Regions from separate parts of the Homo sapiens genome. Here region 1 is linked to region 2. Evidence: fine-mapped expression QTL. A gene starts in region 2. The other region holds a variant in brackets. All regions are shown on one strand. Distances are from middle to middle.

What was found. PIP is the estimated chance that this variant, and not a neighbour inherited with it, causes the effect. A credible set is the group of variants that fine-mapping cannot tell apart.
Region 1: its variant is the best candidate, but not a certain one, in a credible set for the expression of PRRT3 in whole blood (INTERVAL, PIP 0.73).

The regions. Positions count from the first base shown.
Region 1 is chr3:10,076,286-10,080,285 of GRCh38, reverse strand. FANCD2 (FA complementation group D2) reads right to left here. Exons shown (of 44, transcript NM_001018115.3): 30 at 2,089-2,205. Among named protein-coding and RNA genes, the nearest start is that of FANCD2OS, 30 kb to the left of the region's middle. The variant T/C (reference allele first, on the strand shown) is at 2,042.
Region 2 is chr3:9,950,453-9,954,970 of GRCh38, reverse strand. PRRT3 (proline rich transmembrane protein 3) reads left to right here and starts at 2,563. Exons shown (of 4, transcript NM_207351.5): 1 at 2,563-2,649. It overlaps PRRT3-AS1 (PRRT3 antisense RNA 1), which reads right to left. Exons shown (of 4, transcript NR_046734.1): 4 at 184-367. RefSeq lists a silencer at 2,525-3,064.

The DNA of each region.
Region 1 (4,000 bases), 130 kb before region 2:
CTCCAGCCTGGGCAACAGAGCAAAGCCCTGTCTCAAAAAGTAGACCCGATAGTGAATACAAAGAAGAATGAATTGCTGGGCACTGTAGCTCTTGCCTGTAATCCTAGCACTTTGGGAGGCCAAGGCGGGTGGATCATGAGGTCAAGAGATCAAGACAATCCTGGCCAACATGGTGAAACCCCATCTTTACTAAAAATACAAAAATTAGCTGGGTGTGGTGGCGTGCACCTGTAGTCCCAGCTCCTCGGGAGGCTGAGGCAGGAGAATCGCTTGAACCCAGGAGGCGGAAGTTGCAGTGAGCCAAGATCAAGCCACTGCACTCCAGCCTGGCAACAAAGCAAGACTCCGCCTCAAAAAAAAAAAAGAAGACGAAGAAGAAAAATGAATCAAGAAACCAAGAAACGGGATATATTAATGTTTAAATGCTTATACCCAAGACCCAAGATTTTCTCATTTTGTTATATGTACCGTCCAACTGCTTCCCCGGATGCTAGGTGCACGTTTGTACACTGTATACACATCTGAAGTTCTGGACGTTCTAGACAGCTTACTACTACACTGAGGCATGGGCCCAGGCTTGGTTTGGGAGGCTGTTGAAACCAAAATTCAAGTAAAGAACAGGATTCAGGAATGTTCAGGGCATTTAGAAATACATTTCGTAGGCTGGGCGCAGTGCTCACGCCTATAATCCCAGCACTTTGGGAGGCCGAGGTGGGCGGATTGGGAGGCCGAGGTGGGCGGATCATGAGGTCAGGAGTTCGAGATCAGCCTGATGAACATGTTAAAACCCCATCTCTACTAAAAATACAAAAATTAGCTGGGTGTGGTGGCGCGCGCCTGTAGTCCCCAGCTACTCAGGAGGCTGCAGCAGGAGAATCGCTTGAACCCAGGAGGCAGAGGCTGCAGTGAGCCGAGATTGCACCACTGCACTCCAGCCTGGGAGACACAGCGAGACTCCGTCTCAAAAAAAGAAATACATTTCTTATTCCAAGTGCCTTTCTATTTTCTGTTTCAGACTTCCTATTTTTTTTTTTTTATTTCTGAGACAGAGTCTTGTTCTAATGCCCAGGCTGGAGTGCAGTAGCATGATCTTGGTTCACTGCAGCGTCTGCCTCCTGGGTTCAATCAAGTCTTCTGCCTCAGCCTCCCAAGTACCTGGGACTACAAGCATGCGCCACCATACCTGGCTAATTTTTTTTGTATTTTTAGTAGAGACAGGCTCTTGCCACGTTGGCCAGGCTGGTCTCAAACTCCTGACCTCAGGTGATCCACCTGCCTCGGCCTTCCAACGTGCTGGAATTACAGGTGTGAACCACTGCACAGGTAGACTTTTTTTTTTGTTTGAGACGAAATCTGTCACCCAGACTGGAGTGCACTGGTGCAATCTCAGCTCACTGCAACCTCCTCCTCCCCATGCCTCAGCCTCCCAAGTAGCTGGAACTATAGCTGCACCACCATGCCCGGCTAGTTCTTTTTGTATTTTTAGTAGAGATGGGGTTTCACCATGTTGGCCAGGCTGGTCTTGAACTCCTGAACTCAAGTGATCTGCCCTCCTTGGCCTCCCAAAGTGCTGGCATTACAGGCGTGAGCCACCACGCCCAGCCTTCAGACTTCCTATTTAAAGCAAGATGAGGCCGGGCGCGGTGGCTCATGCCCGTAATCCCAGCACTTTGGGAGGCCAAGGTGGGCGGATCACAAGGTCAGGAGATTGAGACCATCCTGGCTAACACGGTGAAACCCCGTCTCTACAAAAAATACAAAAAATTAGCCAGGCGTGGTGGCAGGCACCTGTAGTCCCAGCTACTCGGGAGGCTGAGGCAGGAGAATGACATGAACCCGGGAGGCGGAGCTTGCAGTGAGCCGAGATCACACCACTGCACTCCAGCCTGGGCGACAGAGCGAGACTCCATCTCTAAATAAATAAATAAATAAATAAAGCAAGATGAATATTGTCTGGCAATACGGCTGCACCCATGCTACCCAGTGACCCAAACACAATGCCAAAGAAAGTGACAACTTTTTCATCATAATACCTCCTTTG[T/C]TCCCAAATCCACTATGCCCAAGTCCTATGCTTCTGCCTACACTAACCTTGAGAAAGGGGACTCTCCTGGCAATAGGAGGTGTCAGCATACTCTCCAGCTTCTGGGAGAGATCTTCCAGCAAGAAAAGCAGCTCAGGGGGCCCAAGTTGCACAACTTCTGTAGCCTGTCACATGGAGGAAAGGATTAGTTCCAGGAATGTCCTAGTCATTTCATGATAATTTTTTTTCTTTCTTTTTTGTTAAATGTGCAGTGGCAAGATCATAGCTATTCCAGCCTTGAACTCCTGGGCCCAAGTTATCCTCCCATCTCAGCCTCCCGAGTAGCGGGGACTATAGGCACACACAACCATGCCCAGCTACATTTTTTTTTTTAATTAATAAGAAATGAGGTCTCACTATATTGCCCAAGCTGGTCTCAAACTCCTGGGCTCAGATGATCCTTCTGCCTTGGCCTCCCAATATGCCAGGATTACAGGTATGAACCACCACACCTGGGCCCAGCGAATTTTTAAATTTTTTTATACAGACGGGGTCTCACTTTGTTGCCCAGGCTGGTTTCAAACTCCTGGGCTTGAGCAATCCTCCTGCCTTGGCCTCCCAAGGTATTGGGATTATGGACAGGCATGAGCCACCACACCTGGCTATTTCATGTTAATACTTCCCAATGGGTGAAAAAAAAATTTTTTTTTTGAGACAGAGTCTTGTTCCGTCACCCAGGCTGGAGGGCAGTGGCATGATCTTGGCTCACTACAACCTCTGCGTCCCAGGTTCAAGCAATTCTCCTGCCTCAGCCTCCCAAGTAGCTGGCATTACAGGTGCCCACCACCATGCCTGACTAATTTTTGTATTTTTAGTAGAAATGGGTTTCATCACGTTGGCCAGGCTAGTCTCAAACCCGACCTCAGGTGATAACGCCTGTCTCAGCCTCCCAAAGTGCTGTGATTAGAGGCGTGAGCCACTGCGCCCAGCAGGGTAAATAATTTGACTTTTATTTATTTATTTACTTATATTTGAGACAGGGTCTCGCTCTGTTGCTCAGGCTGGAGTGCAATATTGTGTTCACAGCTCACTGCAGCCTCAACCTCCTGGACTCAAGTGATGGTCCCACCTCAGCCGCCCAGGTAGCTGGGATCACAGGTGTGCGTCACCATGCCTGGCTACTTTTTTTTTTTAACTTTTTGTAGAGACAGGTCTCACTGTGTTACCCAGGCTGGTCTCAAACTCCCAGTACTTTGGGAGGTCAAGGCAGGCAGATCATTTGAGGTCAGGAGTCTGAGACCAGCCTGGCCAATGTGGTGAAATCCCATCTCTACTAAAAATACAAAAATTAGCTGATGTGGTGGTGGGCACCTGTAATCCCAGCTGCTTGGGAGGCTGAGGCAGAAGAATCGCTTGAGCTCAGGAGGCAGAAGAATCACTTGAGCTCAGGAGGCAGAGGCTGCAGTAAGCCAAGATCGTGCCACTGCACTCCAGACTGACGGACAGAGCAAGACTCCGTCTCCAACAAACAAACAAACAAATAAAAAAACTAGCCGGGTGTAGTGGGGCATGCCAGTGGCCCTAGATACTTGGAAGGCTGAGGTGGGAGGATCACTTGATCCTTGAACCCAGGAGTTCAAGGTTGCAGTGAGCTATGATCTTGCCACTGCACTTCAGCCTGGGTGACAGAGCAAGACTCTGTCTCTAAAAAGAAAAAAGAGGCAAGGGAGGAAACTGCACCCATCTCATATAAAGGATAGCTATTATGCTCTGTCATATAATAAAGTCAAGCATGTCCAAAATAAATATTCAGAATAGTAAAATAATAATTCAAGACAGGATAGTTTAGAAGACATACTTTTTCTCTATAAATTCCTCTGTATACCTTTCTAGTTGTGGATCCAAGATGCGTTTCCTAAATATCCTGTGATTTAAAAAATGACTTTGAATGCCACACACAGGGTTTGGGAAAAAAAAAAA
Region 2 (4,518 bases):
GTTAGGATGCTGTCAGGAAGGGAAATGGTTATTGCAAAACCCTCCAAAATGTCAATCAGCTATATGTAGAATCAGGATCCAGTTAACTTCCTACAAGATTGTAACAACAGGCTGGATCTAACAAGATAAACAACAAACAAATGTAGAATCCTACATTAAGAGTCAATAAACCAGTGGTACATGAAGAGATGGGAAGACTTTACTACTAGATCAATTGGGTAACAAAGTAATGTGGCTGCTAGAAACATTAATTCAGTGTGAGGCCGTATGAATGGAGTAGAATCCTGGAAAGGAGAGGTGAAGGTTCAGCTTTACTCCCAACAAGGTTCATTTCCAAGAGTCCTACTTTCAGAGGGGCGTTGTTGAGCTGGTAAGAAGCAAACAGAGAAGAGATTCCACATGGTGAGAACCCAGAATCCTGTCCTGCAAGGAACAGCTGAAAAACTCGGAGTGTTTGTCCTGGAGAAAGAAGACTCTAGAGAAATGAGAGATGCCTTTACAATTCTGAAGTGGCTCCAACAAGGAAAACAGAGCTGGTCAGGTCATGTGTGAAACGGGCAAGGCCTGCACCCTCTCCCAGAGTCAAGCAGCTGAATGCAGGCCCCACCATTTACCAGCCATTAGGGATGGAATATTCTTCAAACTGCAACACGTCAGACACAACTGGGGCCTGAGTATTGCTTTTCTGTGAGAGCTAGAGGTAGGAAGCCATTGGGAGGGAGATGTCAGCTCAGCCCTAGGAAGAATTTTTTCTTTTTCTTTTTTAAGTGAAATTTGATTTTTTATTTGATACTGGGTCTCTTTCTGTCACCCAGGCTGGAGTGCGGTGGTGCGACCTTGGCTCACTGCAACCTCTGGCTCCTGGACTGAAGTGATCCTCCCACATAACCCTCCTGAGTATCTGGGACCCAGGTGCGCACCACCACACTTGGCTAATTTTTTTTTTTTTTTTTTGGTAGAGATGGGGTTTTGCCATGTTGCCCAGGCTGGTCTCGAACTCCTGGGTTCAAGCAGTCCTCCAGCCTTGGCCTCCCAAAGTGCTGGGAATATAGGCATGAGCCATTATACAGGCCAAATTTTCTTCTTCTTCTTCTTCTTCTTTTTTTTTTTTTTTTTTTTTTTTGTCAGTCTCGCTCTACTGCCCAGGCTGGAGTGCAGTGGTCATTGCACTCCAGTGACACAGCTTGTGGTCAATGGACAGAGTGGTCAATGCACTCCAGTGACACTCCAGTGGCCATAGCTTACTGCAATCTTGACCTCTTGGGCTCAAATGATTCTCTGGCCTCAGCCTCTGGAGTAGGTAGGACTACAGGCATGTACCACCACGCCCAGCTAGTTTTTTTGTTTTTTTGTTTGTTTTTTAATTTAAAAAAGTCTCACCATCTTGCCCATGCTGGTCTTGAACTCCTGGGCTCAAAATGATCCTCCTCTCTAGGCCTCCCAAAGTGCTGGGATTACAGGTGTGAGCTACTGCACCCAGCCCTATCTCATTTTTGATAACCACATATATTTCCTGTGTGGCTTTCCCTTAAGGAATTGAGCCTAATAATGGATGTTTAGTATATCAAGAGGTGTTCAAAGAAAGACCAAGAACATTTTGACAGTGTCTACCAGCCCCATATGCAGACCCATAGATTTTACTACCATGCCTCGGCTAGGCAATTATCTGGTAGGTGCACTAGTGTACGTGCACAGTGATGTGTTAAGCAAGGAATGGCCCCTGCTCCATTATCCCTGCGAGCAAAAGGCTAGAAACAACCTATGTCCAATTACAGGGGACAGGATAAAGAACAATAACTAGCTGACCATATGCTGGAATTCTCAACAGTGGATACAAGAAATGATATAGATCTATAGATATTTACATGAAAAATGTGCCAGAATATATTGGAAAGTGAAAAAGACAAATTACAGAAATGTGTACAGTGGCTGGGCACGGTGGCTGACGCCTGTAATCCCAACACTTTGGGGGTCCGAGGCGGGCTGATCACCTGAGGTCAGGAGTTCGAGACCACCCTGGCCAACATGGTGAAACCCTGTCTCCACTAAAAATATAAAAATTAGCCAGGCATGGTTACTAGGGAGGCTGAGGCAGGAGAACCACTTGAACCTGGGAGGCGGAGGTTGCAGTGAGCCGAGATCACGCCACTGCACTCCAGCCTGGGCGACAGAGCAAGACTGTCTCAAAAAAAAAAAAAAAAAGTATACAGTATGATGTCATTTCTATTTAAGATGTACATGTAACTGTACATTGAGAAGAATCTGAAGGATACATACCAAGCTGTAGGTAGGATTTACCTAAAAGGATGTAGGGATATAGAAAGGAAGTGAGCTCCCCGTCCCATGAGGTATGCAAGCAGAGGCTAGCTGCCCCGTTTTCAGGGATGCTGCAGAAGACATTTCCACATCCCTCAGAGATGACCTCGGTTCCACTCTGAGCCCTGACAATCCCTGAGCGAGGGGAAGTCAGGGTTGACAGAAGAGTCCACCCCTAAGGGGAAAGAGTTAAGCAGGGCTGCGCTCCTGTGGGCGGGCTCGCGATCGGCAGCGCCGGGCTCTGTTAGCCGAGTCTGAGCATCTCGGAGGATGCGGCGCGGCGATCGGCTGCAGGGACGCGCGCAAGGTGAACACGGGGGCTGCGGCGCGCAGGTGAGGAGCTGGCCCAGGGAGGGGGCGATGGCGGGACCCCGACGGGGAGCGTGGCCTGCTGCCCCCGTCGCGGGCGCAGGCGACCAGGCCTGCACGGCGCCCACCCCCATCCAGGACACTGCGGGAAGGCGCGGAGCCAGGGAGAGAGGAGACGGAGGAGGAGGAGGAGGAGGAGGAGAGGTAACCCGAGATGGACCAGCTCCGAGGCTGCCCCGCAACGGCCTCGCCCTGCCCCCAGGCCGGCCTCTCCCCAGTCCCTGCGGCAGAGAGATCCGCCACCCCCCACAGCCTCTCCAGCAGAGTGGGAGCCCAGGGCTGGGCAAGCCCCCGCCTTGTCCGCAGGTGCCCACATCTCTTGGGTTGGCAGTGGTAGGCAGATGGCATGTTTATCTTTGGAGGCCCCATTCAGCCGTTTTCTCGGCAAAGCTTTTTGGACCTCCTGTGGAAGATGAGCCTCCGAGGGTTTCACAACCCCGATTGTGTCCACTCAGCTGTGTGACCTTGGGGGAGTTGCTCACCCTCTCTGAACCCCCGTTTCTTCCCCCTGTGAAATGGCTGTTCCCACACCTTGTATTGGGAGGGCGGAGTGACGTGTTGCTAAGCTCAGCGCAGGAGCCTCACTGGGAAAGAACTAAACACAGGAGCACTGTTTTTAGCCAGTACCTGTGTTAGGGGCGTCTCAGCGCACCCCTACTCCCAACCCTGGAGCAAAGCCCTGTCTCTGGGCCCCCAGCACCTAGCCTAGACCAGGAGCAGCCCATGGGGCTCCGTGAATGTTTGAGAAATGAACTAACAAGGCTTTAAGACAGAGTCTAAACTCGAGTTTGGAGGATGGGACTCAAAGGTCTTTGAACCCCTTGAAATTGTTCACAACTTTCGGTGAGCCTGGGTCTTTTCCCCGGGAGAGCACCAGGGGTTTTCAGTGGCTTCTTAAGGTGTCTGTGAGCCACCATGGGTTAACAGCCAGGAAGCTTTGGGGACAGCTGCTCCCCAGAGAGGAAAAGAGCAGGGCCTCTGCCGCCAAACACACCCAGGCTTCAGCTCTCGCACCCTCCATGAAACCTCTCCTGGTGGTGGGGCCCCTTCCTGCCTCCCTGGCCCACTGACAGGCTCTCGAGAACAGGAACTTTTAGGGGATATCCACGTGGGGCCAGGTATATACTGGAGGCTGCAGGTTTGAAATAAGAGGCAGGAGATTATTATAGAATCAGACCAGAGTGACAAGTGCCCAGGAAGATGAGGGAAGGAAGGCGGGAAGAGGAATGTGTAACGCTTGTCAAGCATCAGGTATGAACCTCGCCCATACCTGTTTGGTTATTTGTCTCATGCCTTGAGTTAGGCATGCTTATTATCCCCATTTTACTGATGGGAAAACTATGATGCAGAGAGGTGAAATGACTCCCCCAGGAAATGAAGACACTGGGATTCAAACTCAGGCCCCTCGCCAAAGGCCGGTGCATATTCCTCTCCCTCTCCACGTCTCTCATTTTTGAAGTGGGCCTTTAGGAATAACATTTCAGGCAGGGTGCAGTGGCTCATGCCTGTAATCCCAGCACTTTAGGAGGCCAAGATGGGCAGATTACCTGAGGTCAGGAGTTCAAGACTAGCCTTGCCAACATGGCAAAACCCCATCTCTATTAAAAATATAAAAATTAGCCAGGTGTGGTGGCACATGTCTGTAACCCCAGCTACTCGGGAGGCTGAGGCAGGAGAATCACTTGAACCTGGGAGGTGGAGGTTGCAGTGAGCCGAGATCACGCCACTGCACTCCAGCCTGAGCGACAGAGCAAGACTCCGTCTCAAAAAGAACAGGATTTCAGTAAGTGAAGGGGAAGGGAGAGAGCATTCCCTGCTGACAGAACAGCAGAA